7 linked regions of the Homo sapiens genome follow. The protein of the gene in region 3 interacts with the protein of the main gene of each other region in a biochemical or structural test. Each region holds a gene or a part of one and is shown on either strand. Other genes may lie near its edges.

What was found.
Region 1: the proteins of APBB1 (region 3) and RBM17 form a complex in vitro, tested with the Homo sapiens proteins (one study listed by BioGRID).
Region 2: the proteins of APBB1 (region 3) and WIPF2 form a complex in vitro, tested with the Homo sapiens proteins (one study listed by BioGRID).
Region 4: the proteins of APBB1 (region 3) and DHX15 form a complex in vitro, tested with the Homo sapiens proteins (one study listed by BioGRID).
Region 5: the proteins of APBB1 (region 3) and VASP form a complex in vitro, tested with the Homo sapiens proteins (one study listed by BioGRID).
Region 6: the proteins of APBB1 (region 3) and PABPC1 form a complex in vitro, tested with the Homo sapiens proteins (one study listed by BioGRID).
Region 7: the proteins of APBB1 (region 3) and CCDC97 form a complex in vitro, tested with the Homo sapiens proteins (one study listed by BioGRID).

Annotation. Positions count from the first base shown.
Region 1 is NC_000010.11:6,101,949-6,106,258, reverse strand, and holds part of RBM17 (splicing factor 45), read right to left. Parts: intron 1,329-4,310; coding exon 1,162-1,328; intron 119-1,161; coding exon 21-118; intron 1-20. UniProt on the Homo sapiens protein: Splice factor that binds to the single-stranded 3'AG at the exon/intron border and promotes its utilization in the second catalytic step. Involved in the regulation of alternative splicing and the utilization of cryptic splice sites.
Region 2 is NC_000017.11:40,274,176-40,278,485, reverse strand, and holds part of WIPF2 (WAS/WASL-interacting protein family member 2), read right to left. Parts: intron 1,404-4,310; coding exon 1,302-1,403; intron 302-1,301; coding exon 261-301; 3' UTR 1-260. UniProt on the Homo sapiens protein: Plays an active role in the formation of cell surface protrusions downstream of activated PDGFB receptors. Plays an important role in actin-microspike formation through cooperation with WASL.
Region 3 is NC_000011.10:6,412,036-6,416,345, forward strand, and holds part of APBB1 (amyloid beta precursor protein binding family B member 1), read right to left. Parts: intron 1-4,310. UniProt on the Homo sapiens protein: Transcription coregulator that can have both coactivator and corepressor functions. Adapter protein that forms a transcriptionally active complex with the gamma-secretase-derived amyloid precursor protein (APP) intracellular domain.
Region 4 is NC_000004.12:24,542,803-24,547,112, reverse strand, and holds part of DHX15 (ATP-dependent RNA helicase DHX15), read left to right. Parts: intron 1-4,086; coding exon 4,087-4,173; intron 4,174-4,310.
Region 5 is NC_000019.10:45,513,774-45,518,083, reverse strand, and holds part of VASP (vasodilator-stimulated phosphoprotein), read right to left. Parts: intron 422-4,310; coding exon 250-421; intron 156-249; coding exon 1-155. UniProt on the Homo sapiens protein: Ena/VASP proteins are actin-associated proteins involved in a range of processes dependent on cytoskeleton remodeling and cell polarity such as axon guidance, lamellipodial and filopodial dynamics, platelet activation and cell migration.
Region 6 is NC_000008.11:100,715,384-100,719,693, forward strand, and holds part of PABPC1 (polyadenylate-binding protein 1), read right to left. Parts: intron 2,898-4,310; coding exon 2,704-2,897; intron 2,506-2,703; coding exon 2,390-2,505; intron 219-2,389; coding exon 79-218; intron 1-78. UniProt on the Homo sapiens protein: Binds the poly(A) tail of mRNA, including that of its own transcript, and regulates processes of mRNA metabolism such as pre-mRNA splicing and mRNA stability.
Region 7 is NC_000019.10:41,315,862-41,320,171, reverse strand, and holds part of CCDC97 (coiled-coil domain-containing protein 97), read right to left. Parts: intron 3,789-4,310; coding exon 3,333-3,788; intron 599-3,332; coding exon 320-598; intron 1-319. UniProt on the Homo sapiens protein: May play a role pre-mRNA splicing through the association with the splicing factor SF3B complex which is involved in branch-site recognition.

The sequences.
Region 1 (4,310 bases), on a different chromosome or scaffold from region 3:
CATATTTGTTCATGCCTTACTTCTTTTCCTCCTCTCTCGCTCATAATCTTCATCTTCATCAGAATCTGGATCTGGTCTCCTTGCAAACCCACTTGCTTCATGTCTGTCTTTACGCCTTCTGTGATAACAAAGGAAATAAATGTTCATCACAGATGAACCAATTTAGAGACCTGAACCTGGGATGACTTCCTCTTGACCAGAAGATATCCAAATCCTGTCACAATCAACTATGAAGTTGCAGGGGTAGAGGGGGTAGGAAGCATAACTGGTAAAAGACTAAAGTAGATAAAAGTATGAAAAGTGAGAAAAATTCAAGAGATAAATTGAACCAATAAGTATACGAGAGCAACCAGCATGAAAAAAAAGGTTCCTTGACATTGACCTCTTCCAATGTTAAAGCCTATCAACATAGTAATAGTTCAATCATTTCAATAGTCTATAACACTTTCACTCATGAAATGATTCAATAAATGGGAAACAGTATATTAATATTTAATACATGTTAACTATTTGATAATACTAAATATTTTTAAAAAGAACTACAAATACATCCTACTACTCGTACTTTGCAAAAACATAAATAAAAGCTGCATATGAATTTTTAAAAATTCCACCTGGCTCAAAAATAGTAAAGTTAAGAAGAATATTTCAAGTACTTTAAATAGCTGTGATTTTACAAGTTGAGAATCCCTTATTCCAAATGCCTGGGACCAGAAGTGTTTCAAATTTTGGAATATTTGCATTACAATTACCAGTTCAGCATCCCTAAGCCAAAATCCCCCAATGCACATTTCCTTTGAGCGGCATGTTGGCATTCAAAAGATTTTGGAGCATTTCAGATTTCGGATTTTTGAATAAGGGATAGTCAACCTATAGCAGAGTATCAGCATAGAAAAAAATTTTCAACATCAGGTTTATAAGTTATTTTTCTAACAACTCACTCAAAATATACACTTTAGGTCTTCAGTCTACAGGTGAAGTTTGCTGTGATTCTGAGATGTAACAGGTACAAATCGTAAAACAGTTTGATTCCTTGTAGTGACTGCTCAGATCACCCATGACAATTAACTTCAGCCTTACAGACAGCAGCGACGCTCATTCGTTAACATTTTAATGAACATTTCAACTGTAAAATATCCCCAAATCCAAAGGAAGCCTTACTTTTCCCTTTCTTCTATTTCCTTTTGTCTTTCCAGCTCCCGCTGTCTCTGTCGTTCCTCTCTTTGGCGCTTCACTACTTTCTCATAATCATTAGGAAACATAGGGTCATATTCGTCAGCTAAGGGAATCAGAACTTCCCCTGCAGAAAACCCACTGGGAACAGGATCCTGAGGAAGGTAAAAACAGCAGTAAGAATCCTCTTTATATCTTACCAGTTTACTCACAGGATTCAGGTCAAAGCGTATGGGAGATAAAAGGACTCTGAACATCATCTAGCCCCTTCCTCTGTTTTAAAGACAAAGAAAACAAATACCAGACAAGGCCACGTGCCTAGTCAGGTGGTAGCAGAAACAGGACACAAAATTTCACCTCTTAGATTAGTACTATTTCTATAATACTCTATGGCATTTTTCCTGGAATTCCTAAATAAGCCACCACCAGCTAAAATATAAGTTACTAGTACTTTGAGTCAAAAAATTAGAATACTTATAGTAAAGCACTGAATACTTGTTTTTATAGATCTCTATGACAACTTAAAAAATAAAACAACCATGAACACCACAATCATTCTTGCAGTCATCATTTTAACAGAATAACTTCAGATTCTGATTACATGGAGATAAGAATATATGGAGATCTTAGAAAGCATCTTCTTGGTCTTTCTAATCCTCTGAACACATGTCCCTTCCCAGGTAGGCTGCATTTCAGGCACTGAGTTTGACACAAGGGGATGTAATGTCCCTTCCAGCATCATAATTTTTTTTAAGGTTCACTAAAATCAGGTTTAGATAACACTTCGTGTTTTCTCGTCTATACATTCAGAAACTTGGTCTACTCTTTGAAAGAAAAGAGGTAGCCATGACAAAGAAATTAGCAAAACGAGAGGCAGAGCACAGCCAGTATACTAGGAAATACATGAGCAGACACAGAACTTTACCCTAGGCTGGCAGCCTCGGTCTACACGTGGTGCTGGAAGCCCTGACCCCACTTTCCTAAACCTTCCCACACTTTCTCCTGTTAGTGTTCTTAGCATAATTCTTCGTTATTATCTGTAACAATAAGATGCCTTCTCTGGTTTTGAAAGACACCTCAAACAAGCACAGGTTAGGATTAGTGTCCCCATTTTTTTTAAAACACACATGCAAAACAACAAGGATTCATGTCCTTGAGCGCCCAGTCTGTACCTCTTACAGGAGGTACAATGTCCAACTGTATCAAAGGCAAGAAGGTCGTTTGTAAACGTGTTTCCTGCTTGAACACAGAACTGACAAAATCAAGACAGCTTACACGCCATATTAACAGACCTAAATCGAACAGTTCCTGTGTTTCATGGTTCGGTGTGACATTTTGCACTATAAAACAAACACTTCACCATTTCCTTACGACGAAATATCAGGAAATGCTATGATCCAATGAATAAGAGCAATTAGGAAAATAACTATAATCACCTCCCAGGCCCTACCCACTGGAAAATGTATTTAATGTAGGGCTCCTAAAGGTTAGTTATACATTTGTATTCATTTTATAAAAGACATTTAAAAAATACAAAAGCACATGAAGATTTCTTTTCAGTTATTATTTAGAGAGAAAATGACAACCAGCCACTCAATTTATCTAACACAATTATCACAACGTGTCTAAGAGAACAAACTGTCAATATGAAGGTTCATTCTCTGACACTTCAAAATTTCAAAGAAAAAAACTTTTACATATAAACCCTGCTATGCTTAACAATGAAATCAATCATCCTTTTCTAAATGCTGCAATGAATAAAGTGATTTGTTCAATTTAAAAAAATTAAAATGTTAATACCCTCAATGCTGAGGGGGGAGGATGGGGTAAAATTCACCCTCATATGCCTGAGGTGATACTGTGCACTGCTGGGAGTAAACTGGTGCCAGAACAGATTGGCCATAAAAATGGCTGATATCTTAATGCCACCTCAGAAAATCTAAGAAAATAACCCTAATTACATAGAAACATCTCTGTAAAGATGTTCATTAGAGGGCCGGGTGCAGTGGCTCATGCCTGTAATCTCAGCAATTTCGGAGGCCAAGGCATGTGGATCGTTTGAGCTCAGGAGTTCAAAACTAGCCTGGGCAACATGGTGAAACCTCATCTCTACAAAAAATTAGTCAAATGTGGTGGCATATGCCTGTGGTCCTAACTACTCAGTAGACTGAGGTGGAAGGATCGCTTGAGCCCAGGAGGAGGAGGCTGCAGTGAGCCAAGATTGCACCACTGCTCTCCAGCGTGGTGACAGAGCAAGACCCTGTCTCAAAAATAAAAACCACAAAAAGATGTTCATTAGAGTGGTATTTATAAAGGCAATGTAAAAGCAAATCTAGGTGGTTTTACAGTTAGGGAATACTTGTGTAAATTATGATGCATTCGCTTAATGAGAATTAAAAACTGATCGTGAAAACTATGTAACAAGGAGGAAAAAGGCTTACTCATTAAATAGGAGACTAATATTATAGGTACTAGAACCAATACACGATTACAGAAGAAACTATGAACCAGTTTTTAAATTAGATGTAGCAGGAATAAACTAGGTATCAAATTTATGGGGGAAAATGCTCAATGACTAGGAATCAGCAAAAAAACACCTCCACCATGTGGTGCTTCCCCTCCAGAAGAACTACCAGCCCTCAGGAACAGCACCCGCTCCCCTCAGAAAAGGACAACTCAAGGGTAAGCTGCAGCCACAGACTGGCCCAGAACATAAGCAGGACAGGCAGGAGACGGAGCCCAACCCAGAACAGTGACGTGAAACAGATGGGCAGGAGTGTGCCCTTTGCCCCAGCCTGATGCAGCCCTTCCCACAGGTGGTGGGGAGGACAGGCGCGCCTTGCTAAGAAACTGTCTCGATAGCACTATTATTAATCTTTTGGTCATTTTTCATCAAGCGGTTTTGTGCAATTCATGATGCTGTTTAAATGACCACAGTCATTATTTGAACGCCATCTGTGGAAAGATAAATGTATACTTAAATTGTGGGTATAATTTTAACTAGTTTATTCACTCATTTTACCTCATTTTGTCTAGTTTTAACTATGATTTTGAGTTATCCTTTTCCAGATCTTCTTCATCCTCAATAACCCAATTTATAGAGTTGACCACATGTTTGTTTTTAAGCATATGTAAAA
Region 2 (4,310 bases), on a different chromosome or scaffold from region 3:
CTCATGTGGCTAGCAGGGCTTGCTGGAGGAAGGATGGATGCAGGGTTTGAGATCCTACTGTCAATATAGAGTCTGATCACCAAATCCAGAGATGAGATGCATAGATGGAGGTGAGCTGGGAGGACATTTGGAGTCTAGGGCTTGATTGCATTGGAGAAACATGTTAGGAGCTCTCATGCAGGTTTCAGGGGAATGGAAGGGACCATCTGAGAAGAAGAGAAGGTCCATCCTTTTCCTGAGGAACGGGACCAAGCCAGGCTTCACCTGAGAATGGGTGGCAGAGGTGGGGCTCCACGGGCAGCTGAAAAAAAACAAAATAAAGACCACACACATACAGGTCACCCACCAGAATCTGAACAACCCACACATTCCTAAAATGAGAGACAGGCTCTTTAAGCTAACCTTTAAAATCTGGGGACTACGTGTTATTATTGTTTTGCCTAAGAAAATGAAGATGAGTGGCCAGGCAAGGTGGCTCACGCCTGTAATCCCAGCACTTTGGGAGGCCGAGGCGGGCGGATCACCTGAGGTCAGGAGTTTCAGACCAGCCTGGCCAACCAGGCAAAACCCAGTCTCTACTAAAATTACAAAAATAATCCGGCATGGTGGCACACGCCTATAATCCTAGATACTTGGGAGGCTTAAGCAGGAGAATCACTTGAACCTGGGAGGCAGAGGTTTGGGGTGAGCCGAGATGGCACCACTGCACTCCAGCCTGGGTGACGATAGGGAGACCCTATCTCAAAAAAAAAAAAAAAAAAAGGACAACGAAGATGATGAGAAGCAATTTTTTTTCTTTTTTTTTGAGACGGAGTCTCCCTCTGTCACCCAGGCTGGAGTACAGTAGCGTGATCTTGGCTCACTGCAACCTCCGCCTCCTGGGTTTAAACAGTTCTCCTGCCTCAGCCTCCCGAGTAGCTGGGACTACAGGTGTGTGCCACCACGCCCAGCTAATCTTTTGTATTTTTAGTAGAGACGGGGTTTCACCGTGTTAGCTAGGATGGTCTTGATCTCCCGACCTCATGATCCGCCCACCTCAGCCTCCCAAAATGCTGGGATTATAGGCATAAGCCACCGCGCCCAGCCTAATTTTGTATTTTTAGTAGAGACAGGGTTTCATTATGTTGGTCAGGCTGGTCTCGAATTCCTGACCTCGTGATCCACCCACCTTGGCCTCCCAAAGTGCTGGGATTATAGGTATGAGCCACTGTGCCCAGCGAGAAGCAAATTTTAACCTAAGAAAATGCACAGATTCTACATTCTATGCAATTATGGAAAAACCTTCTTATTATTATTCTCACCTCGGTTTGTTTTGCTGGGATATATCCTCTGAAAGTGTTTATATTCTTCTGGAGCAGGAAAGTCTTCTACTGGATGGAAGGAATACTTTGACTCAAAATCATCTGCGAAAAGAATAGAACATTAATTCCTATCATCCTTGCTTGTGCTCCCACAGGCCTCTGATCGCTTCGACCCTCCCCACTTACTAATCTCTCAGGCATTCTGAGGTACTGTGAGGACCTACTGCCCCACCAAACCAACCACCCTGAGAACAGCAGCAGCATCACCCCACGTGCCTTGCATGCACAGAGCATGTATTCAAAACCTCTCTGTACTAAGTAGTGCGTCTTTGAGCCCATTCTTTATTTATTTATTTTTTGACAGTCTCGCTCTGTCACCCAGGCTGGAGTGCAGTGGTGCCCACCACCTCACCCGGCTAGTTTTCTGTATTTTTAGTAGAGACGGGGTTTCACCATCTTGGCCAGGCTAGTCTCAAACTCCTGTGCTCAGGCAATCTCCCCACCTGGCCTCCCAAAGTGCTGGGATTACAGGTGTGAACCACGCCTAGCCTGAGCTGATTCTTTAAACCTTTCCACCAAGTCAGGCACAGAACAGGAAAGGAGCTCAGTTGTTTGCATGGTAGCAGAAAGAAATATAATTCTTTTTTTTTTTTTTTTTTTTTTTGAGACGGAGTCTCACTCTGTTGCCCAGACTGGGGTGCGGTGGCATGATCTTGGCTCACTGCAACCTCCACCTCCCAAGTTCAAGCGATTCTCCTGCCCCAGCGTCCCTGAGATTACAGGCAGGCACCACCACACCTGGCTAATTTTTGTATTTTTAGTAGAGATAGGGTTTCACCATGTTGGCCAGGCTGGTCTTGAACTCCTGACCTCAGGTGATCCACCTGCCTCGGCCTCCCAAAGCGCTGGGATTACTGGCGTAAGCCACCAGGCCCAGCCAATTCTGGGTTTTAATAACATCTTACAGACTGTCACCACGGGAAAACAACTGATCTAAATCCAGAAATTGGTAGGAATTAATTTAAAATGGGAATATCTGTCTATGACTAGTGAGAGATTTGACCAGATGATTCCCTTTCAGTCCATGTTACCTTCACTTACATAGTTGGGACAGCCATCTCATGGCTTCTACTACTACTTTCTACAGCCCCTCCATCAGAAAGCTCAAATTTTCTGTAAGTGCGGCTTGATCACATCCCAAAGGTTTCTACAATAAGGATATATCTTTAAAGCAAAAACCCTGGCATACCTAATAGGAATAGACTAGAACATGGAGGACAGTGGGTAGGTAAGGACAGCAACCATTAAAGAATCTAGAAGCTGGGCATGGTGGCTCATGCCTGTAATCCCAGCACTTTGGGAGGCCAAGGTGGGTGGGTAGCTTGAGCCCAGGAGTTTGAGACCAGTCTGGGCAACATGGCAAAACCTCATCTCTACAAAAAAAATACAAAATTAGCCAGGCATGGTGGTGCACACCTGTGGTCCCAGCTACTTGGAAGGCTGAAGGATGGGAGGATTGCTTGAGCCTGGGAGGTCGAGACTGCGGTGAGCCGTGATTGCGCTACTGCACTCCAGCTTGGATGACAAAGCAAGACGCTATCTCAAAAAAAAAAAATCTAGAGTGTTAGGGTTGCAAGGGACCTTTCAGAGATTTCTTCCAAGGGTCCTCAACAGACGGGTCTAACAATAGCCTATGGACAACCTTTACTTAGGGTTACATCCCAGAACCAAGGAATCAGAATCTCTTAGGTAGAGCCCCCCCAACATTTATAATCTTGGAAAAGTTAATCTGATACACTTCTGATCTAGTCAACCTAATTTTACAAATAAGGGAAGTGAGGCCCAGAGAAGTAACGTGACTTCCTCAAAATAACACTGCTAGTTAGTGGCTTTGGATTAATGTGTGTAATGTTTTGGGTTTTGTTTTTTTTTTTTTTTTTTTTTGAGACGGAGTCTTGCTCTGTCACCCAGGCTGGAGTGCAGTGGCACAATCTTGGCTCACTGCAACCTCCACCTCCTGGGTTCAAGAGATTCTCCTGCCTCAGCCTTCTGAGTAGCTGGGATTATGGCTGCGTGCCATCATGCCCAGTTAATTTTTTATATTTTTAGTAGAGATGGGGTTTCACTATGTTAGCCAGGCTGGTCTCAAACTCCTGACCTCAGGTGATCCGCCTGCCTCGGCCTCCCAAAGTACTGCGATTACAGGCGTGAGCCACTGCACCCAGCCGACTTTTTTTTTTTTTTTTTTTTTTTGAGACAGATTCTCTCTCTGTCGCCCAGGCTGGGGTGCAGTGATGTGATCAATGGTTTGCTGCAGCCTCAACCTCCCTGGACTTAGGCAATCCTCCTGAGTAGCTGGAAACACAGGCGTGTGCCACCACACCCAGCTAATTTTTGTATTTTTTAGAGAGATGAAGTTCCACCATGTTGCCCAGGCTGGTCTTGAGTTCCTGGGCTAAAAGCAATCCTCCCACCTTGGCCTCCCAAAGTGCTGGGATTACAGGCATGAGCCACCACGCCCAATCCTTTTTTCTTTAATATTTTTTGTCATTCTTTCTTCTTTTTTCTTTCCAGGCAATGTGCCATGGGACTTTTCTTTTTTTTTTTTTTTTTTTTTTTTTTTTTTTCAAGAATTCCAAGGAAAGGCTGGATGTGATGGCTCACATGTGTAATCCCAGCACTTTGGGAGGCCAAGGTTGGAGGACTGCTTGAGACCAGGAGTTTGACAGCGGCCTGGGCAACAGAGACCCAGTCTCTATAAAAAATAATTAAAAAATAATAATTCCAAGAACAATCAAGTGTTTTGTTTTTGAAGAGCTAGAAAGGAACACTCCTTCCTAGGAGAATACATAAGTCCTGTCTGAATAATCCTAAAGAAGATACAGAGTCTCTGACCTAAAAGCTAGCTACAAAAAGTGATCTTTGGAGTGGATTTAGAGTTAGCACAACACTTGCTGATTTTACTTCAATCTACTCCAAAGCATCCATGCTTAGAATTCATATCAAGAT
Region 3 (4,310 bases):
TCCCCTTGGGCACTGGTCCCTCTGCCAGCCCTCATAATGCCCTGTCCTGGATCACTATGGGAGCCTTTCCCCTGGGCCCCTCAGCCTTTCAGATCTTTGTTTTTTGGGGGTTGTTTGTCTGTTTGTTTGTTTTTGAGACAGAATCTTGCTCTTGTTGCCCAGGCTGGAGTGCAATGGCACAATCTTGGCTCACTGCAACCTCTGCCTCTCGGGTTCAAGTGATTCTCCTGCCTCAGCCTCCTGAGTAGCTGTGATTACAGGTGCCCACCACCACGCCCAGGTAATTTTTGTATTTTTAGTAGAGACGGGGCTTCACCATGTTGGTCAGGCTGATCTCAAACTCCTGACCTCGTGATCCGCCCACTTCGGCCTCCCAAAGTGCTGGGATTACAGGCATGAGCCACTGCGTCCGGCCCAGCCTTTCAGATCTTTGACCAAATGTCACAGCCTCAGTGAAGCCTTCCCTGAACACCCATTTTAAAACCACAGGCTACCTCCGCCCCTCCTCAGCAATCCCTAAACTCTTCCCCAGCGCCTGTCACCATCTGACAAGCCAATTTATTATTTACTTTGTCTAATGATTGTCTCCTCATGACTATAATTTATAATTTCCATGTTGGTGAGGATTTTGCCTTTTTGGTTAAATACAGTATGCCTAGTGCCTAGCGTAGTCCTGGCACAGAGCAGGAACTCCATTAATATTTGCTGAATGAATGTATGAATCAGTCCCCATTTCCTCCAGGCTTCGCTTTGGCATCTCCTCTGCCAGTGTCAGAAAACACTTTGGTTACGTTACTATGCCTTATGGTGCCCCAAACAAACTCCACCTGCCTCTCAGGTAAGAGGACGTCCTGTTCCGCAAGGACAGCTCCCCCTCCAGACCCCTCCCTCTGCCTCCTCACAGCCCTTCGTGGGTCAGTTTCTCCGCAACCATTTGAGTCCCAACTATCCTTCCAGCCCGCCACCCAGGGACCCACCCTCGGCCCCATTCCATCCTCCCCACTCTCCCTGACCTTCCAGTTGCTCTGCTGCTCTCCTTCCCGGACCCCCAAGAGAAAGTGCTCTCTCCCTGGACCCTCACCAGCCCCCGATTTCAGTTATTTCTCCCTGACCAACCACTGCCCACTTCTCTCTCATCCTGAGCCCTCCATGCAAGCCCTCCTTCAGACAGCCCCTACCACATTACTCTCTCCTCCCTCGATGGCCTCACTGATTCTCTTGCCCTACCCGACCCTTCCCCCAACAGACAATTCTCCCTCACTGACCATCCCAACAAACACTGCACTGTGCTCTTTCTCATTCCCACTGTACAGACCTTTCTCCTTGATGTCTTATCTGAGAGTTCCCTATCTCCCTGTTCCTCTACTAAGGAGTTCTTTCTTTCCCTGACTCACCACTACCCCCCTTCCCTCTGTGTTCTCAGCGCTGAGCACAGGTCTTGCAGCTACCTGAGCAGGGCTTGCCCATCTCTCCAGGTGCGGTGCGCCCAGGCTGGAGTGCAATGGCACGATCTCAGCTCACTGCAACCTCCTGCAGCCTCCTGAGTAGCTGGGATTATAGGTGCCCACCACCACGCCCAGCTAATTTTTGTAATTCTTTTTTTTTTTTTCTTTTAAGTAGAGATAGGGTTTCACCATGTTGGCCAGGCTGGTCTCAAACTCCTGACCTCAGGTGATCCACCCGCCTCAGCCTCCCAAAGTGCTGGGATTACAGGCGTGAGCCACCGCGCCCGGCCCCATAGCTCACCTTTCTACGTCTCTAGTTCCTCAGACACTAGTGCTATGCTACCCACACATCTGTAAGATGAAAAAGGTTTCTGCGCACGTGTCTGCCTCACGTGGGGCTGTTGATCTGCTCAGTGTGACTCCTCCTGGCCAATGAGAAAACTCACAGCCACTGGAATAAATGAAGAAAAAAATAGCTCTACCTCCTCCCAGAACCACAGTAATCTTCCAAAAATGGAAACCAGATTGTGTCACTCCCTGGTTCAGAAAATGAGAGGGCTCACCACTGCCTTTCGGATAACGCCTGCACTCGTTCGCAGACACCCAAGAGCCCTCTTAAGCCGGCCTCTATAACCTGTCAGTCCCCTCCCCACCTCCCGCCTCCTTTATACCTTATACTCTAGCCACATGAAGCGTGGCGGATTCTGAAACATGTCGCACACTCTTAAAGCCCTGGGTCTTTGTTTATACTGCTCCCTCGGCCTGGAATTCTGTCTCCCCTTGTGAGAACCTCTGCTTGTATTTCAAAACTAACCTCAGCAGTTACAGCTCCTAAGCAGTCTTTCCTGTTCTCTCCCCACCATCAAGTGACTGTTCTCTCCTTCGTGTCTCACAACACCCAGAACCACATTCTATCAGAATATCTGAGACGGTGTCTTATTCAATTTCACATTCCCATTACCAAAGAGAGTGTGCCGTGTGCCGACACAGACTGGGCTGTTGCAGAAGGAAAGGACGGATGAACGGGACAGACACAGGGGGTGGGAGGATCCAGGAAGCTCAGAACTGGCTGGGAATAAATACCAAGAAAGGCTGTGTGGCCCAATGGGCTGGGGAGGAGCAAAGGGAGTGTTTGGGAGGGTGTCAGAGAATGCCAAAGGGTCCCTGAGTGGGAAGTAAGATGGGACAGGAATCCTGGAGAGGTGAGGGCTGAGATCTAGGAAAAGGGAGCGAGGGAGGTAGCTTAAACCAACATCTTGGCACAGACACTGTTCAAGAGTGGCATCTCCATGGGTGTCAGGAAGCAGAAGACTCCACGACTCTGCCATGCTCAGAGGACCTTAAGGATGGCAAACCCTTCTCTGAAGCAGTAGTGTACAGAGCCAGGTTTCTCAAAGGTCAGGCAGAGACCAACCTCCTAGGCACTAGGAGATATGATCTGAGAAGAGTGCATGCACTGTGAGGCTGAAACAGTGAAGAGCCAAGTTGACCTCAGGGCAGCCCCGCCAATCTGGTCACCAGGGCAGGAAGTATTAGAGGAAGAATGGTGAAACTGTTTAAGTGCTGAAGCCTGAGCATCTAGCCTGAGGTGGTGTGGTCACCAACACCCCACTGCTCGAGGTCAAAAAGATGATCTCAGTCCAATTTTTTAAAGAAGGAACACAACCTAATCTCTCCCCTCTCATTGGAGTTACCAAAGGATGCAAAGAGCCAACTGGGTTCTGGCTCAAGGCAGGGAGTTGGGCAGGGGCCTCGGGGCAGGAAGTGAAAGAAGTAGTCACTAAGCCTGAAGATCCTGGCATCAGACCACAGGGGTTGGGGTTGAGTCTTGCTCAAAGTCAGGAGTTGTCTAATCTGACAGCTTCCCATATGCCAGGCACTGTGCTAGACACAGGGGAGAGTGATGAAGACAAAAGAAATGGTTCTTCCTCTGGAGGAGTTCTCAGTTCAGCGGGAAACAGTCATTGAACAACTTGTTACAATGCAGTGTAACACCAACATCTAGAACAGTGCCTGGCACCCATAGCATTCCCTATTTGTTGACTGAATATCATGAAGGAGGAAGAGGAGGGCATTACAGGAACCTGGGGCTTACTACAGCCAAGACATCAGCAAAGGCCTGCCTGAGACTAGGACATAACTCTCCATTGGCCACCCGTCTCAGAGGCTGATCTCCCCTCCTGATTCACAGAGGAAAGGGAAGCCATCCAACTGGGTAACATCCTCAAACATAAAAACCTAACCAAACTTCAGCACCTATCCCTTTCTCTCCTTCCCAAAACCAACTGCTTCACCTATGATTTGGATTCTTCCTATGATGCCTTTCCAGGAATTTTATACCACTGTTTATCTATTTTCTCCTCTATATGATCAACCTCTCCTTCTCAATAGGATCCACGGTCTCCCAACTTGACCTGACGCTCCTCCAGATCCACTCACTGCTCTCTTTCCTCCCCCATACAGGCAAACTTCCTGAGAGAGTTGTCTCCACTCACTGTTGCCACTTCCTCACCTCCCACTCACTCCTCAACCCTTTCCAAACCTGCTTCCACTCCCAACACGACTCAGTAACAGCTCCTACCAAGGTCAACATGACCCCTGTGTCATTCAATCCAACAGACACAGTGCTCGTCTTGGTTGTCCTCCCAGCAGCATCTGACCCCGTGAATCTCTCATCCAGCCTCTATCCGGGGCCTCCACACTCTCATCTCCACACTCCTCATCTCATCTCATCTTTTACACTTCTTGTTACTGTTTGCTGGGTTCCTAGACTCCTCTGCTGGCTCATCTTCCTCTATTAGCCATTACCTGCTGGAGTTTCTTATGGCTTATTCTCATGCCCCTTCCTCTTTCTCATCCTATAAT
Region 4 (4,310 bases), on a different chromosome or scaffold from region 3:
GAGAGTAAAGGAAGACTTCCTTGGCAGTTGCTGCATCATTTTCATTATGAGGAAGAACATTCTGAGGCGCAGCATGTTAAGCACAAATTTAAAGTTTTCATACAAGCCTGGCTTATAGAGGAGGGATCTATACAAGTTTTACTGTTCATATGTAATTTTAAACTTACTGTTTGTGTCTAATTGTGAAAAAATATTTGATTTTTTTGTTAAACTGTTCTAATATAAGGATAGTAGCTAGCATAAAGCAAATATATAAAAGTTGAAAGTTTTTGAACAAATATAATACTTAATACAAATTTTAATTTCCATCAAATTAATTGTGATTCTGTATAACTTTATATTTGAGTCCCTTTTATAAGGCAGTGCCATTTCTTATTTCTCTATTAGTTTATGAAAAATAGATTTTATAACTTGATTGTGGTACTAATAAAAAACAGCCTTTTAAACATGTTACAGCACTAATGGTGAACGATTTCAAGTTTTTAGCAATCAAGAAAGGTTGAGAATGCAACATATATTTATATGAGGGTAAATATTTTTACCTCTTGATAATTTTTGAAGTTTATTCAAGTATTTGACTAAGTTAAAAGTTACAGTAATTCTTTACATGCATTCAAGTTTACTCTTCAGTAGATAACTTCTGCATTTTTTGACTGAGACTTAAAATTGCTATTTTGTGGATTTGGTTGTTATTAAAATACAACTATAATTATTTTTTAAATATTTAGTGTTCATTAATTTTGTTCATACAAATAGCTGACTTTTCTATAGTTGATCCTACATTTCGCTGATTAATATGGTTCAGAGCATACATTGCTCAGTGAAAAAGAGAAATGGCCCTTGTGGAGATGGTCCTGTAGTTTTAAAGAAAGACTTAATGATCCAGGATCTGAAGATAGCTTACTGTGGTGCTGCTGGGATGTTTATAAGCAAATAAGTTGATGTCCTTGTGTTGGAGACCACCACAGAGTTCCCTGGGGACTAAAAGTCCAAATTAGTTTAAATGCATTATTGTGTCCAGACAGTATTCAGGTAGGGCAAATGAAGTACTGCGAGTTCTACTTTGAAGTGGAGTTATTGGGGGCGGAGTGGGGGGAAGTGGTTCTATTAGAAAAAAAGTGAGTTCTATTAGAAGGCAGGTTATTGAGGGAGGAAAATTTACTCTTAGCATGTCCTGACAGTGATGCCAAGCTTTTCACCATAGGGTCTGTTCCATATTAGTCAATGCGGTTTGAACACTTTTTAAGGCTCTTTGAACGCTTACTGCAGTGTTGCAGTCTAGAAAGCATGTAACAATTATATTGATTCTTACTGGTCATAATGTAAATCCCTTGACAAATTCAAGGTCATTTTGTCTCCTGATGGGTTCCTGGTTGTATGGTGTGCCATTTACAATTAGAACATGGTTAGGGCTTGCCTCACTCAACTGCTGAAGTACCAAAGAAGCTTTTATCTTGTCATTTATTAGTTCGCTTTTGCATTGTGTGTGTGTGTATTTAGCCTTAGCTATTTTTAGTCCTTGAGAAAGGCCTAAAACTTGTGCTTTTTTGTTAAGGACTCAATTTAACACTTGTATTTTAGGGTTTGACTTTTGGCTGGCAATAGGCTCTTACTAATATCAATAATGACGAGGGTTTGCCAAGTTGGCATAAATCATTTGATTCTTAAACACTTGCAGAATCATGTATCCGCGAATTGTTAAGTATTACAGAATTTAATACACTCACCCAGACAAAAAACATACACACAGGATGAAATTATTTTGTGGAGAAAAATTAACTTTTTATAATGGTAACTAAAGAGTTGGTCACATGAGAAATTTTTATCACATTGTATTATGTTATAGAAGAAATATGTGAAATGTATTTTTTCCCAGAACAACTTTTTTAAAAGTGATTTTCTTCATAAATATTTTCAGAACTATGGTTTTCACCCCAGAATTCCAGAAAGCCAGAAGACGTCTTCTGTATTTACAGGCATGTAGTTGGTTCTGTATAGATTTGAGATAGGGTCTCAGTCTGTTGCCTAGGGTGGAGTTCTGTGCCATGATCATAGCTCACTGCAACCTGAACCTCCTGGACTCAAGCAGTCCTCCCACCTTAGCCTCCTCGGTAGCTGGGACTACAAGCATGTGCCACCATGCCTGGCTAATTTCTTTTATTTTTTTGTAGAGGTGGGGTTTTACTATGTTGTCCAGGCTTGTCTCAAACTCCTGGACTCAAATAATCCTCCTTGGCCTTTTTAAGTGCTGGGATTACGGATGTGAGCCACCATGCCTGGCCTATTCTGTATAGTTTATAGAGCATTTCCACATCCTTACATAATTTATTCCCTACAACCCTGTGTTATGTAGACTAAGTAATATGCAAGTTATAAAAGGAATACAAGCTTGGGGGTGTTAAAACCTTTCCAGTTACTTTAGCCACTCAGGTTTGATTGCTAGGTCTGCCAGTTACCTCTAAATTCATCGCTTCTTTAACTACAAGAAACTGACTTTCTAGAATATTAAATGCCGGTTATGCTTATTCAAGTTTCACCTGTTAACCTTATGTATGTCGTTGTTTGCTTCAGTTCTAGTTGCTGATTATTTTTCTAAATGTCCTGAAGAATGTATTTCAGCAACATCATCAAACCACATGTGGTTTCTTATTCCTTTGCTAGTTGTCAGTCTTTTCAACTGACAAAAGGAAACATTTTGGTTTTTGACTTGTAAATTATTCTGAAATACCCTCTTGGTAGATTGCTATTATGTTTTTAAATCCCTGAGGTTTCCTGTTAGTATTTTGGGAAGTCTACTACTTAGTAAATATGAAATCAGAAAATGAAAGTGTTAATATTAAGTAAAATAGTTAATGCAGCAAAAGCCTATGATTTTTAAAGCTATTTGATTTATAAAATTAAGTGTTTTTAAAATAAAATAGGGATAAATATAAATCTTTTCATTTTTTGTATGTGCCCATAGGCATTTCTCCCACATGTGTTTTTTTAAGATGGAACTTTAGTGCTAGTGCTGTTTCCTTCTCTCATGAGTAGGTCTTAACCTTACCGTCAAGGACTGTCCTAAATGCTATTATTTTTCAGTAAAGCTTTTCTTGACTTTGCTATGGAAGTAAACCTTTTTAAATTTCACAGTGTGTCTTTGGTGCCACTCACACTTTCTATCCATGTCTAATCATCCCTTACAAATGGTAAAAGCAGACTCTGTTTGATTCATCTTCTGTATCAATTGCTTGCATATACAGACATCTTCAACTTAATATCAGTAACCTGTTCCTGAAAATCATGTCCTGAGTTAAAATACTAATGAGGAATCCCCATTTCCCATTGTTTAAAAAAAAATTATATGTAACATGTATTTCCCAAGTCCTTAACTAATTTTCTAAAACATATGTAATATATAGTAAAACATGCACGTATACCAAACAAGCTATCATATTAGTATGTAAATGCTTTAAACATTTTCCGTCAATAAAGAATTATAGTTCTTAACAGTTGCTTTGTATGTAGTAACGTATTACATGTCATCCCGTTGAGACCATGCACTTACCGAAATATTTACATTTGATTCTGCTGATCTGTCCATTCTTACTGGATTATAACTTGAGTTTTTTTCCATGTGGCATTTTGTTTAAAATGTTGAGTTGAATTTTGGTGATATAAATAACGAAGTTTTCATTTGTAAATATTGCCCAAAAACATTGAAATATACACTTGTGGAAATTTGAATACTAATTATAAGGGCTGTTTTATCAGACGTTTTGTAAGGCACGTTATATTGCTTCATCAGTATTTTTCTTTTTATGCTGTCCATTAATTTGATTAAGCAAAATGTAATGCGGTTGAGTGATAACCTGAAGTAATAGCTTTGTTGAGAAAGAAGTTGCTGTTGTGGTGTAAACAAAATTTTGGTTCCTTAAATATTAATTTACCTTTTTAAAGCATTGGCCATTGAAGATCAAATGATATTTCTAGTTTATTTGCTGGCTTGAAATTCCTTGTGTCAGTGAAAGTTAGTGGCTGATCTTTAACAGTCCTGTTAATTTTATTTGATATGTAATATAATTTATATACTCTATTTCTTAACAGGTAGTTGTGTCAACTAACATAGCAGAGACGTCTTTGACAATAGATGGTGTGGTGTTTGTGATTGATCCTGGATTTGCGAAACAGAAGGTACATATTTAGTGGATACTTTATAAATTAGAGTTGGTTTAACAGTACTTACAACCAATTCATTTAATGGCTAAAATTTACCTTTCAGAATTATTTTCCTATCTTTTTTTTTATTTGCAAATTTCTGCTGTATGAAC
Region 5 (4,310 bases), on a different chromosome or scaffold from region 3:
TCTAGGGCACTGGCCATGCCGGCGGCAAACTGGGCCGCATCCTCCTTGCTGCCGAAGTTGAGGCCCCAGACCTGGCGAGCGTCGCGCCACTGATGGAAGTTGGGGGTGGCCTGGTTATACTTGACACCCCGGACGATGGCACAGTTGATGACCACCTGGTGGGAGGGGAAAGGGGGGTGAGGGGCGGCGGGCGCAGGGGTGGGGCGGGTAGGGGTTCAGCCCACAGAGGGGGCCGGCGGGAAGCTGCACCTGCTGGTCGGGCTGCATCTTCCGGCCCACGACGCGAAAGGAATTGGCCGTGGGGTTGTGGTAGATCTGGACGCGGCTGAAGGCCTGGGGACCCGTGCCAGCAGGGAGCCATCGCTTGTTGCCATCATCATAAAGCATCACAGTGGCCCGGCTGGAACAGATGACCGTCTCGCTGCAGGCGGGAGGAAAAGGGAGAGGGGCCGGTCACCTTCTTATCTGGGTCTCTCCTGGGAGATTCCAAGGGACAAAGACAGTGTGTGGAAGGAAGAGAGTGACACAGAGGGAGGCAGGAGCCACGTGGACAGAAGGAGACGGGGGAGACAGATCAGGAGAGAAAATCAGATCAGGAGAGACAGGCAAACACACAAACGAGATGCAAGAGACAGACGCAGAGAGAGGTGGGAAAGGGAGAGTCGGGTTGACAAAGAGGAGAGACAGACTGAAGGCAGACAGACAGATGAACAGATGGGGGAGGGGTGGGGAAAAAGGATGGGCAGACAGGGGACCTGGAGGAAGAGGCAGACACAGAAAGAGATAAAGATGGTCTTGGCGTGGTGTCTCACACCTGTAATCCCAGCACTTTGGAGGTTGAGGCAGGAGGATCACTTGAGCCCAAGCATTTCAGAGCAGCCTGGGCAACATAGTGAGACCCCATCTCTAATAATAATAATTATTATTATTATTTTTATTTTTGTTTTTGAGACAGAGTCTTGCTCTCTGTCACCCAGGTTGGAATGTGGCCTCGACCTCCTGAGCTCAAGCGATCCTCCCACTTCAGCCTCCCAAGTAGCTGGGACTACAAGCATGCACCACCACACCCGACTAATCTTTTTTTTTTTTTTTTTTTTTTTGAGACAGAGTCTTACTCTGTCACCCGGGCTGTCCTCGGCTCACCGCAACCTCTGCCTCCCAGGTTCAAGCCATTCTCCGCCTCAGCCTCCTGAGTAGCTGGAATCACAGGCATGCACCACCAAGCCCAGCTAATTTTTTGTATTTTTAGTAGAGACGAGGTTTCACCATGTTGGCCAGACTGGTCTCGAACTCCTGGGCTCAAGTGATCCATTTGCCTCAGCCCCACAAAGTGCTGGGATTACAGGGGTGAGCCACCACACCCAGTCCACAAAAAAACTTTTTTAATGAAAAATAAAAAACACAACACAACAAAACTAATAAGAAGGAAAAGATAAAGATGGAGAGACAGGCTGAGGGGTGTAAGAGGCCGAGGCCAATGCCAGTGGGGGGATGCGGGTTAGCAGAGCAGAGGGCAGGAGGGAAGACAGAGGGGCCAGAAGGAGGCCAAGAGCCCAGAGCTGCACTAGGGACCAGCCCCTGCCTGACCTCAGTTTCCCTATCTCTACGCACCCCCCTCCACCACTGCCTGCTCAGGAAGAAGCTGAGGCTTGGGAGGGGAAGTGTGAGGCCTGCAGCAGGTTGGGGACCCATCCCAGACCTCTGAGCTCTTCCTCCAAAGGGACTTCCCGCTGCCCACCCCTCGCCTGGCTCCCCAGGGCACTAGCGGCCATTCCCCAGATACTCCCTGCTCTGTGTCTGGCCTATATTGGGTGGGGCTGGGGATGAAGACACAGCAGTGACCCAGACAGCTCCGGCACCACCCTCCTGGGGCTCACAGTCCAGTGTGGGAGACACAGCTGTCCCCAGACGGTACCAACCCAGGTTTAGGACCAAGGAGCCCAGGGTCTGGGGGTACCCTGAAGGAACGCCTGCCCCAGCCTGGAGAGTCAGGCAGGACTTCCTGGAAAAGGCAACGTCTGACTTAGCCTGGGTGGGAGGTGTCAGTAAACTGGTGCAGAGTTCAGGAGCTGATATCCCCAGACCTGGGTTCAAATCCCCACTGAGCCACCTACTTCATGTGACTCAGGCACATGACCTTCCCACTCAAGACCTCTTCTTGCCTGTGAACTGGGAAAATGACAGTCCCCACCTCCAGGGCAGTGGGGGAGGGGCACATGAATCTGGGCACCTAAAGGGCTTGGTACAGCCGGGTGTGGTGGCTCACGCCTGTAATTACAGCATGTTGGGAAGCTGAGGTGAATGGATCGCTTGAGCTCAGGTGTTCGAGACCAGCCTGGGCAACATGGTGAAATCCCGTCTCTACAAAAACGTACAAAGATTAGCTGGGCGTGGTGGTGTGCACCTGTAGTCTGAGCTACTCAGGAGGCTGACGCAGGAGAATCGCTTGAACCCAGGAGGTGGAGGCCGCAGTGAGCTGAGATCACGCCATTGCACTCCAGCCTGGGCGACAGAGTGAAACTCTGTTTCAAAAAAAAGAAAAAAAGCTAAGTGCTTGGTACAGCGTCCAGCACACGCCGAGAGCTCAGTAACTGTCAACATCCCTCTCATGGGCACCACTGGGGCCCGGGACAGCTACAACCCTCGGGACCCTCCCACCAGCCCCTCTGGGAGGTTCAATCCCCTCTCCCCCAGTGAGGAAACTCAGGCCTAGACAGGAACTCAAACAGGAAGTGACTTGCCCAAGGTCACACAGGGGAAGGGGAAGCACTGGTCTCCTCCCCACCCCACCCACACCAGGCTTTTTCCTGAAATGGGGAAGTTGGTGGTCAGAGGTTTCCGGGGACAGAAATTAGACACCCCCCGCAAAGCCTCTGTCTCTAGGAGGGCTGGGGGCTGGGTGTGACACTGATGCTGGGAAGTCAGGGCAGGGAAAGTCCCTAGGCAGACTCAGCTGTGGGTAGGGACCTGGGGTAGGGACCCTCAAATTTACCTAATTGTGCCATCTCCCTCTTACTAGGCATTTCAGGTGGATCAGGGGCCTTAAGCCCCTCCCCCAAAGTCACTCATTTTATTCTCACTGCAGCTTATCCAGAGAGCCACTCATTCTAATTTTGCAGGTGAGGACTAGAGGCCCAGAGAGGTTGAGTGACTTGCCCACAGTCACACAGCTACTGAGGAATAGAGTGAAGATGTGAATTCAGGCTTCCAAGCCTTAACCACCGGGAACTGTGTGGGCCCCACCCAAACACCAGGTGCCCTTTCCAGACAAACACAGCCTCGGGGGCTGTTTCTGGCTCCTGCTGCCCCTGGCAAGGCAGGGTTAAGGCCTCGGCCTCACCCACACCTGCCACCCACACCCAGGGCCGACTCTGGCCAGGAGCCCGGGGCTGCTGCTGCCCCGCCCTGGCTGCACTTTGCTCTCCCAGGCAGCCCTGCCCTACTGAGGCTCTGGACTGGCCGGAGAACAGGGCGCCTGCTGGGTGACCAAGGGGTGGTCTTGCCCCTCTCCAGGGAACACTATACCCATTGTAACAGAAGGATCCTGTTAAAACACGAGGTGGGGCGGGGAACGGTGGCTCATGCCTGTAATCCCAGCACTTTGAGAGGCCGAGGCGGGAGGATTGCTTTAGTCCAGAAGTTCAAGACCAGCCTGGGCAACACAGTGAGACCCCCCATCTCTAAAAAACAAAACAAACTAACAAAAACCTACAAGGTGGGATGTCTCTTCTTCTTCTTGAAGGCTCCAGGCTCCTACGGAATCAATGCCAAGTTCTCTCCAGGGCCTCCGTGATCTGTGTGTCCTCAGATCTCATTTCTTCCCGCTCCACTGTCCCTTGGGGACTCTGTTCCAGACCCTAGACCTCCTACCCCCATGCTGCTCTTCCCGCAGGCCAGACACATTCCTGCCTCGGGCCTGTGTGCTGCTTCTTCCTCAGGCCTAGCCTCTCCCCACTTTCAGGTCTCTCCTTAGATGTCACCCCTTCCAAGAAGCCGTCCCTCACTCCCTTAGCTGGAAACGCTTCTCTCCTTTTCATCCCCTGCTGCACATTTCATAGCAGTGACCCCTGCCCAACACAATATTTGTCTGTCTCCGCTGCCAAAAAGGCAGAAATTTGTGTCCCAGTTGTTCACTGCTGTGTCCCCAGAACCTAGAATGGCGTCCAACACATAGTAGGGACTCAATAGTTACGAAACATCTGTAAAAAAAGGCAAACTTTGGCCAGGGGAGGTGGCTCACGCCTGTAATCCCAGCACTTTGGGAGGCTGAGGCAGGAGGATCACTTGAGCCCAAGAGTTTGAGATTGGCT
Region 6 (4,310 bases), on a different chromosome or scaffold from region 3:
GTATAAAGTAATAGCTAAAATTAACACTGAGCACTAATTCAGAGCTTTGTGTGTAAAAATTTAATTAAGACACATTACCAAACTTGCCAAAGAGATCCTTAAGGCGCTCATCATCCATGTCTTCTCCAAAATTCTTGATGTAAACATTGGTGAATTCTTTTGCCCTAGCTCCAAGTTCAGCTTCTCGTTCTTTACGAGACTTAAATCGTCCAACAAATCTAATAAGATATACAAGGACTATAACATTAGATTCTATTTTATAAAGTTCAGATTAAGTAAGCCTGATGGTTGGTTTTGTTACTGTTAATGAGAATATTCAGAATCCCTAATAAAAAGCACACTACAAAATAGAAATAGGGCCATAATTTAAGATATGACACCATGAAATATATGAATAAGCCTCTAACTACAATCACAAAAAAAAAACCACTTCTTTTAATACACACTTCTCTTCTCTAGCTAACCTAGGGTTAAAGGGATCACTCCCATCAATACAAATGAGTGGAAGTGCATGTGTACCATGCCAATAAAAAGACCTCTATCAAATTAAAAAGCTTTCATCGTCATTTTAAAGTGGCGCTTGCGCTTTCTTTGCCATCTCCTAGAATAAAAATTTAAACTTCCCAATCGTGTACTCTAACACACAACAGCCTGACATAACTGCAGCATTTTCAACAAAATGACACTAAAACTTAATTTTTTCTGAATATAACAGTAGTAATTCAGAACAAGGATCACTGGGCTAGGCAGTGGCTCACACCTGTAATCCCAGCACTTTGCAAGGCCAAGGTGGGATGATCACTGGAGGCCAGGAATTCGAGTTCAGCCTAGCCAACATGGTGAAACTGTCTCTACTAAAGTACAAAAATTAGTTGGGTGTGGTGGTGTACACCTGTAATCCCACCTACTTGGGAGGCTGAAGCACGACAATTGCTAGAACCCGGGAGGCAGAGGTGGCAGTGAGTAGATTGCACCACTGCACTCCAGCCTGGGCAAGAGAGCAAGACCATGTCTCAAAAATATAAAAAGAACAACGATCACTGAAGAAAAAAAGGTAGCACATGTGTCATAGCATATTATAATACACAGCAAAGCAGAAGGAAAAACCATCTTACATAATCTCACCCTAGTCATCTAAATTTCCTTATCTCTAACCCAGCTTTAGAATAAAAAGTAAAATAAAAATAATTTCCTTATCTCTCCACAAAATATGGTTGGTCTTCGCTATGCTATTAGTTTCATAAATGTTCTCAAAGGGAGCGTATTTCATTGTGACCATCACTTTCTGCTTTGTAAATAATGCTGCAACTTTTTTAAGAGACAAGGTCTTGCTATTCTGCCCTGGCTGGAGTGTAATAGCTGTTCACAGGCACAATCACAACACACTACAGCCTTGGCTCAAGCATCCTGCCTCAGCTTCCCAGTGGCTGGGAATAAAGGCACACTGCAGTAAAGCTGAAACTTTATGAAAGACACTTTGTGTATTTCTTCTTAGGACAGTTACAAATTTCCAAAAGAGTTATATCACTTTTACTCAAAACAGCAACATATCATTCTTTTCTGGATCCTGCCAGTGTTGGGCTTGCTTTTTTTTCCTCCTAAAGCCCTGGTAACAGGCATTTGTGAGTATTTATTTATTTTTTTTAAAGACAGTTTCAATCTTGTCGCCCAGACTGGAGTACAATGGCGAAATCTCGGTTCACTGCAACCTCCGCCTCCCGGGTTTAAGTGATTCTCCTGCCTCAGCCTCCCGAGTAGCTAGGATTACAGGCATGCGCCACCATGCCCAGCTAATTTTGTATTTTTAGTAGAGACGGTTTCTCCATGTTGGTCAGGCTGGTCTCAAACTCCCAACCTCAGGTGATCCGCCCACCTCGGCCTCCCAAAGTGCTGGGATTTACAGGCATGAGCCACCGCGCCCGGACTTGTGAGTAATGTATGTCTCTCATTTTACAGTACATAAAAGCAAATTACTTTGAGTTTCCTCACCTATAAAATGGGTTAATTTAACCAGTACCTCAAGAATTATGAATATTAGGTTTGTCTGAATTCCTGATTTTTCACTAATGCACTCATTTTGAAAAAGCTACATTTTTCTGTTTACTTATCTTCTGTTTTCCTTTTGGCATGAATGTTAATTATATTAAACCTGTTATTTGTATGTTACACTTACTGTGTAGAAAATTCAATTGTAAAAATCAAGATTAGCTTATTAATTTTCACTCCAGTACAACTACATGAATTTTTGTTATTCATCTTTAAAATGTTTTTATTCTTTTATCTTATGTGCATCTAACTTCTCCCTGACAAATATTAACTTAAAATGAATGGATTTGGAATTATTAAAAATAAGATTCAAAATATGATTAGCTAGATATTTATAACTTACACTTTGCGATCATTTAGGAGCATTCCATTCATTTTTTCAATAGCTCTTTCAGCTGCTTCCTGCGTCTCAAAGTGTACAAATCCATAGCCCTTGGAACCATTTTCATCACAAACCACCTAGGGAAAAACATATACCCATTTTTCTTTATTTGCTATTGATTTAACATTTGTTCAGTGTTGAGAGACAATCTGTTAGCCATCTAACCTGGATATTTGTGAAATAAAGATATCCATTACTGCACAGTTCCTATTTCAAGCACTAAACTAAATGTAGCTCAACAATGTAAACATGTGTATCGGACATTTTTGGCTTACCTTACATGAAAGGATGTTACCAAAAGCAGAAAATGTATCATACAGTGCTTTATTATCAATGGATTTGTCCAGATTTTTAATGAATATGTTGCCTACTCCACTTTTGCGAAGTGATGGATCACGCTGAGACCACATGATGCGTACTGGCTTGCCCTTTATAACATCAAAATTCATGGTGTCCAAAGCACGCTCCGCTGCAGGAAGGACATTTTCAGAGTCAATATTACTTCAAAATTTTTGCTGGCTACTTAAGATTATATAAACTATGGTGACTGGAGTGGGAGGACACATGGTCTCACAGTTGAACGCTTCCTCTTTAAGCTTCAAGATGGCTAGACCTTTCAAGTATCACACACTAGTGTGGGACCTAAGTTGTATAAAGCAAAGACAAATACCAGAAGCCCCCGAAATTTCTCACATATAAAAGAATTCCATATTGCTAATAATTAATAAATTCTTGACGCAATCTCTCGCCTTAATTGCCATTAAATCTAAAGCACTTTTTTTCCTAGTTATCAAAATCCAAATTCCTTCACATACAATCTGTTTAATAAGCAGTATAAAAGACATTACGCAACAGATTTATCTACAAGCTGGAAGTAGTTTATAGATTTAAATATTTTAACTTCTTCCCAACTACTTGCTAAAATTGGTCATTTCATTGCTAATAACTAACAATATTATATGAAAACTAGTCCATTTCCTAAAAAATGAAAGTTTCTTAATTATTGGGGGGAGGGAGGGTTTCAGTGATTCATGGCACAACTTCCATTTAAGAAAATGAAAGGCTAGACCAAGATTTGAATCATGCTTTCAAAAGCTAATGTGAAGTTAGACATATTTGGTTTCATAATCACAGAATTTTAAAAACACCAGGTCTGCAATATTCAGAAATCACCATTAACGCTCTCTTGACACATACAATCAATTTCACTTTAGATCGCTGATTTTCTTAACAACTGATTTAGTTATTTCTGAATACTGCTAGAAAATTTCAAAATCTACAATTAATTTCAGGATCTATAAAGGATTGAATTATGTATACCTGTACCATTAAAGGCTCTAAATGAAATAACACATCCTTAAATAAAAAGACTAGTCCCCGAAGAGAGGGAAAACGGTCCCTTTTAAGCCCTGAAACAATTCCTACAAATTCCATGCCAATGTAAATTTAAAAGTTATTGACAGGATGAATTTTCCGGCCACCTCTTTTTTTATAAATGAAAGTTCCAGTTTCTAGAATATAGTGATAATCAGCTGTTAGCTCATTATCAATTGACCACACCTACTCAGCTTCCCTAGTTTTTTTTTTTTTTTAGCTGACTTTGCTTGAGCTATTTTTCAATGAGTCACCTCTTCCTATGAAATTGAAAACTGGTCACTTTCAGAAGCTATTCTGCCTATCAATGTAGCAATAAGTTTTTAAAAAAGAACAAGAAATCCACTTAAGTAATTAATTGGATAGTAAATTGTACATACAGAAACTAGACAAATGGAAAACTGCCATATTCTTTTCAGTAGTTAGGGTACTGGTCTACTGGTACAGACTGATAATATATACTGTACACTGTAACCACGGCAACCTGAAGTTCAACTCTTCGAATCCC
Region 7 (4,310 bases), on a different chromosome or scaffold from region 3:
AACACATGACCATATAGTGCTCTGGAGACTGTATCCTCGGGTCAGGATCTGAGACCTGAAGGGTGGGAGGAGAGGCATTCCTGGCGGAGGGAACAGCCTGTCCAGACCTGGAGGCGAGGGTTCATTTGGTGCCTCAGAGTGGGGGATGGGGATGCTGCAGCGGTTGGAAGGGCATACACAGAGAGTCAGGCTGGGCAGGGGAGGGACGCAATGTCGGCTTTTGCAGGTTGGGGGCCCAGCCTGCTGCCATGAAGTGGAGACAGACAGGCCTAGGGCTGGGGTGTCTGGAATCTGGGGTCTTCCTGCTACTGGCCCTCACCTTCCTCGTCACTGTCCTCCTCCTCTTCCTCTTCCTCCAAGCAGGCCTCCTCCTCCTCCTGCTGTTGGAGCAGACGCTGCTGTAGCTCCCGCTCCTCGTAGGACTGGAGCAGCAAGTTGGAGAGCGGGCAAGCAGGTCTCCCGGGGGACCCGGGCTTGGGGGGCTGGTGGGTTGGGGTGCGGGCACTGAGCTCCTCCTGGGTGAGATACTGCCCGATGTACTGCTCATATAGCAGGGGGGCCCGGAACCGCATCTGCTCATCACTGAAGTACTCGCCCCCTGCACAGAGGAGAGACAGGGTGGGCATGGGGTGAGCGACTGAGCAGATAGTGTCCATGTGGGTATGTGTGTGATCATGCTTGTGGGATGATGTGCATACACAGTCCAAGTGTGTGTATGCACACATTCAAAAACACAGGAAAACATGCAGGCACCTGAGGTGCGCGTGAGTACTCATGCAGGCGCCTGAGGCGTGCGTGTGAATAATGCAGGCGCCTGAGGCATGCACGTGAATACTCATGCAGGTGCCTGAAGCTGTGTGCGCAAGCACTCATGCAGGCACCTGAGGTCATGTGCATGTGATTACTCGTGCAGGCACCTGAGTGTGTGTATGTGGCCCGGCCTCTATCTTCCTGTGTATTCATGTATTCATGCATCCAAGCATGTGTGTGCATGGGCAGACCTGGCTACATCCTGGCCTCTGAGGCTCTGACGGTCTGGAGCTCGTGTACAACTGTGTCCAGGCACGATGCACAAGCTCCTGCCCATGGACGTGTACATGGCCTATGTACACACACATGTCCTGTGAGGCCCAGCATATGCCCACAGACACCTGTCTGTCTGGGTGTCAGCATGCAGGACAATGCAGCAGAAGTTGTGTGTCTCTAGGTTGTGTGCCTGTTTGTGGGGCCCTAGTCTGGCTGGCAGTGGACACGCCTTCACTGTGGGGCGTGTATGTGTGTACATCCACGTGGATTTGGCATGTGTGTGCAAGGGATCAGGTCAGGTGGGGCATCTGCCCGTGTATCCCTGGGAAAGCCTCCTGGTGGTGGAAGGCCCTAGATCCATCCTCTCTCGAGTGCTCCTCTATGCAGCAACCCCTCAGGTGGGCCTGGCTTCCCCACTACCCCAAAACTTGAGTTCCCTGCATCACCCCTGGCTGCCTGTTTCTGCACGAGTGACTCTGTCCCTCAAATAACAGTTAAACCTGCCCTGGTCCCTCCCCTCCACTGGTCCTAGCCGTGTCTTCAGAGTCCAGGGCAAAGAAACTGCTCGGACTCCTGGCCTCTGCAGCACCATAGGCTGTGACTGTCCCTGTCCTGCTCAGCTTCCCCACTCCTGCCAGCAATCTTACCCCCAGCTGTTTGTGGCATCCTCTAGCAGACTCAGTTTTTTGAGATGGAGTCTCGCTCTGTTGCCCAGGCTGGAGTGTAGTGGTGTGATCTCGATTAACTCTAACTGCAACCTCCGCCTCCCGGGTTCAAGTGATTCTCCTGCCTCAGCCTCCTGAGTAGCTGGGATTATAGGCACCTGCCACAGTGCCTGGCTAATTTTTTTTGTATTTTTAGTAGAGCCGGGGTTTCACCATGTTGGCCAGGCTGGTCTTGAACTCCTTATCTCAAGTGATTTGCCTGCCTCGGCCTCCCAAAGTGCTGGGATTACAGGTCTGAGCCACTGTGCCCAGCCTCTAGCAGATTCAGTTTCTATCCCTCCTTCTCCCCAACTTGGATTATCACCCACCCCGGCTCTGGATCTCTCTCCATCTCTTCCTTTATCTCCATCTTTCTATCTTTCCTGCTTTTTTCAGTTTCTGTCACCTACCCCCACCTCATTCATCTTTCTTCTTTTTTTTTTTTTTTTGGCAACCTCCACCTCCCAGATTCATGTAATTCTCCTCCCTCAGCCTCCCAAGTAACTGAGATTACAGTTGCCTGCCACCACATGTGGCTAATTTTTTTGTATTTTTAGTAGAGATGGGGTTTCACCATGTTGGCCAGGCTGCTCTGGAACTCCTGACCTCAGGTCCACCCCCACCTCGCCCTCCCAAAGTGCTGGGATCACCGGCTTGAGTGACTGTGCCCGGCCCATCTTCCTTCTGTTTTCATCCTCATTTCCACATCTGTGTTTTTTTTTTTTTTTTTTGAGACAAGATCTGGCTTTATCGCCCAGGCTAGAGCTTAGTGGTGGGATCTCAGCTCACACAACTTCCACCTCCCAGGCTCAAGCAATTCTCCCACCTCAGCCTTCTGAGTAGCTAGGGCGCCACCACACCCAGCTAATTTTTGTATTTTTTGTAGAGACAGCATTTCGCCATGTTGCCCAGGCTGGTCTTGAACTCATGAGCTCAAGTAATCTACCCACCTTGACCTCCCAAAGTGCTGGGATTACAGGCATAAGCCATCATGCCCAGCCTCTCTCTCTTTCTCTGTGAACCTCTCTATAACTTGTGCCTTCTCCCTAACGGCAACTTAACTCACTCTGCTTCATTCACTCTCATCTTTTAACTTTGGTTCTGGTGTTGTGGTCACAAGGATGCTTTTAATTATGTCATGGTCAAAAAGCTATCTTTTTTTTCCTTCATGGTTTTCACCGTGTGTCTTGTTCAGAAGGCTTCTGTGTCCCCAAGGTCATGTACATACTCCTTTTGGTTTCCCCTGATGCCTCTGTATATGGTATGAGGTAGGGATCTCATGTTTTGTTCCTTAGGTATGACCAATTATCACAGCACTGTGTACTGTGTCCTCAGCCTACCAATCTGAAATGCCACTTCTAACATCTACTAAATTCTGATCTATTCTCATTGTCTGTCCCATTCTCTTCCCTGGACCCCTGTCTATCTCTCCCCCTTACTTTACATTTCTGTCTCAGTCTCTTCCTGTGTCCCTGTCTCTGTCTCAGAACTTCTCTCCCAGGATCTCTGTCTCTGCTCTTGTATTCTTTTCTCTAATTCCCTCTGCCTCAGTCTCCCCTCCCTCCCCATATGTGCCCACTGTCGCCCATCTGGCCCCCACACCTTGGATCAGCTCTCGCAGGGCAGCATAGCGCCGGTTACGCAGGCGGGTACGCAGGGTGCGGGGCCGGGCAGTGCCCTGCCGGGCCACCTCAGCACAGTAGAAGTCTGCACGGTGGTCGCCACGCACGTGGCCAAAGCAGGCCAGATGCTCCTCACGGAGGCCTGTGCGGAAGCGCTCCAGGAACACCAGTGGCTTCTCGTGGTACAGCTGGGCCAGGATGGCCACTTTCTCATGCTCTGTCAAGTCGGGTTCACCCTGCTGCTGGCTGCAAACAGGCAGGCGGCTGGCGGCTACAGCGTGCAGCATAGCACTCACTGCTGCATTTTCAGCCCCGGAGGTGTCACTGTCCAGGGCCACTGGTGTTGCCTCAGCTGCTTCCACTTTGTCCTGGGGTTTAGATGGGACTGGTGTCCGGCTCAGCTCACCCCAGTGCCCAGGTCCAGGCTCTATGCAGCCTGAGGAAAGGAGAGATTGGTTAGTTCAGAGATGGGAGTGTGGGAAGGGACTGGGGGCTTAGTCACTCACTCAGCTCACATTTACTGGGCACTGACTATATTCTGGGCACTGTTCTGGGCACTAGAGAAACCACAGTGAGCAAAAGTTGACATTTCAGTAGGGGACACAAACAATTAGCAACATAATTACCGAAAACATAATGTGTTAGGTGTTTCCTGGAGTTATGCGGAAAAATAAACAGGGAAGGAGGAGGGAAGAGGTGGAGGAGGCTGCAATTTTATTTTATTTTCGAGACAGGGTCTTGCTCGGTCACCCAGGCTGGAGTGCAGGGCGCAATCACAGCTCACTGCAGCCTTGACCGCCTGGGCTTGAGCGATCCTCCCATCTCAGCCTCCCGTGTAGCTAGGACCACAGGCATATACCACCATGCCTGTGTAATTTTTAAATTTTTTGTAGAGACAGGGTATTGACATGTTACTCAGGCTGGTCTCGAACTCCAGGGCTCCAGCAATCCTCCTGCC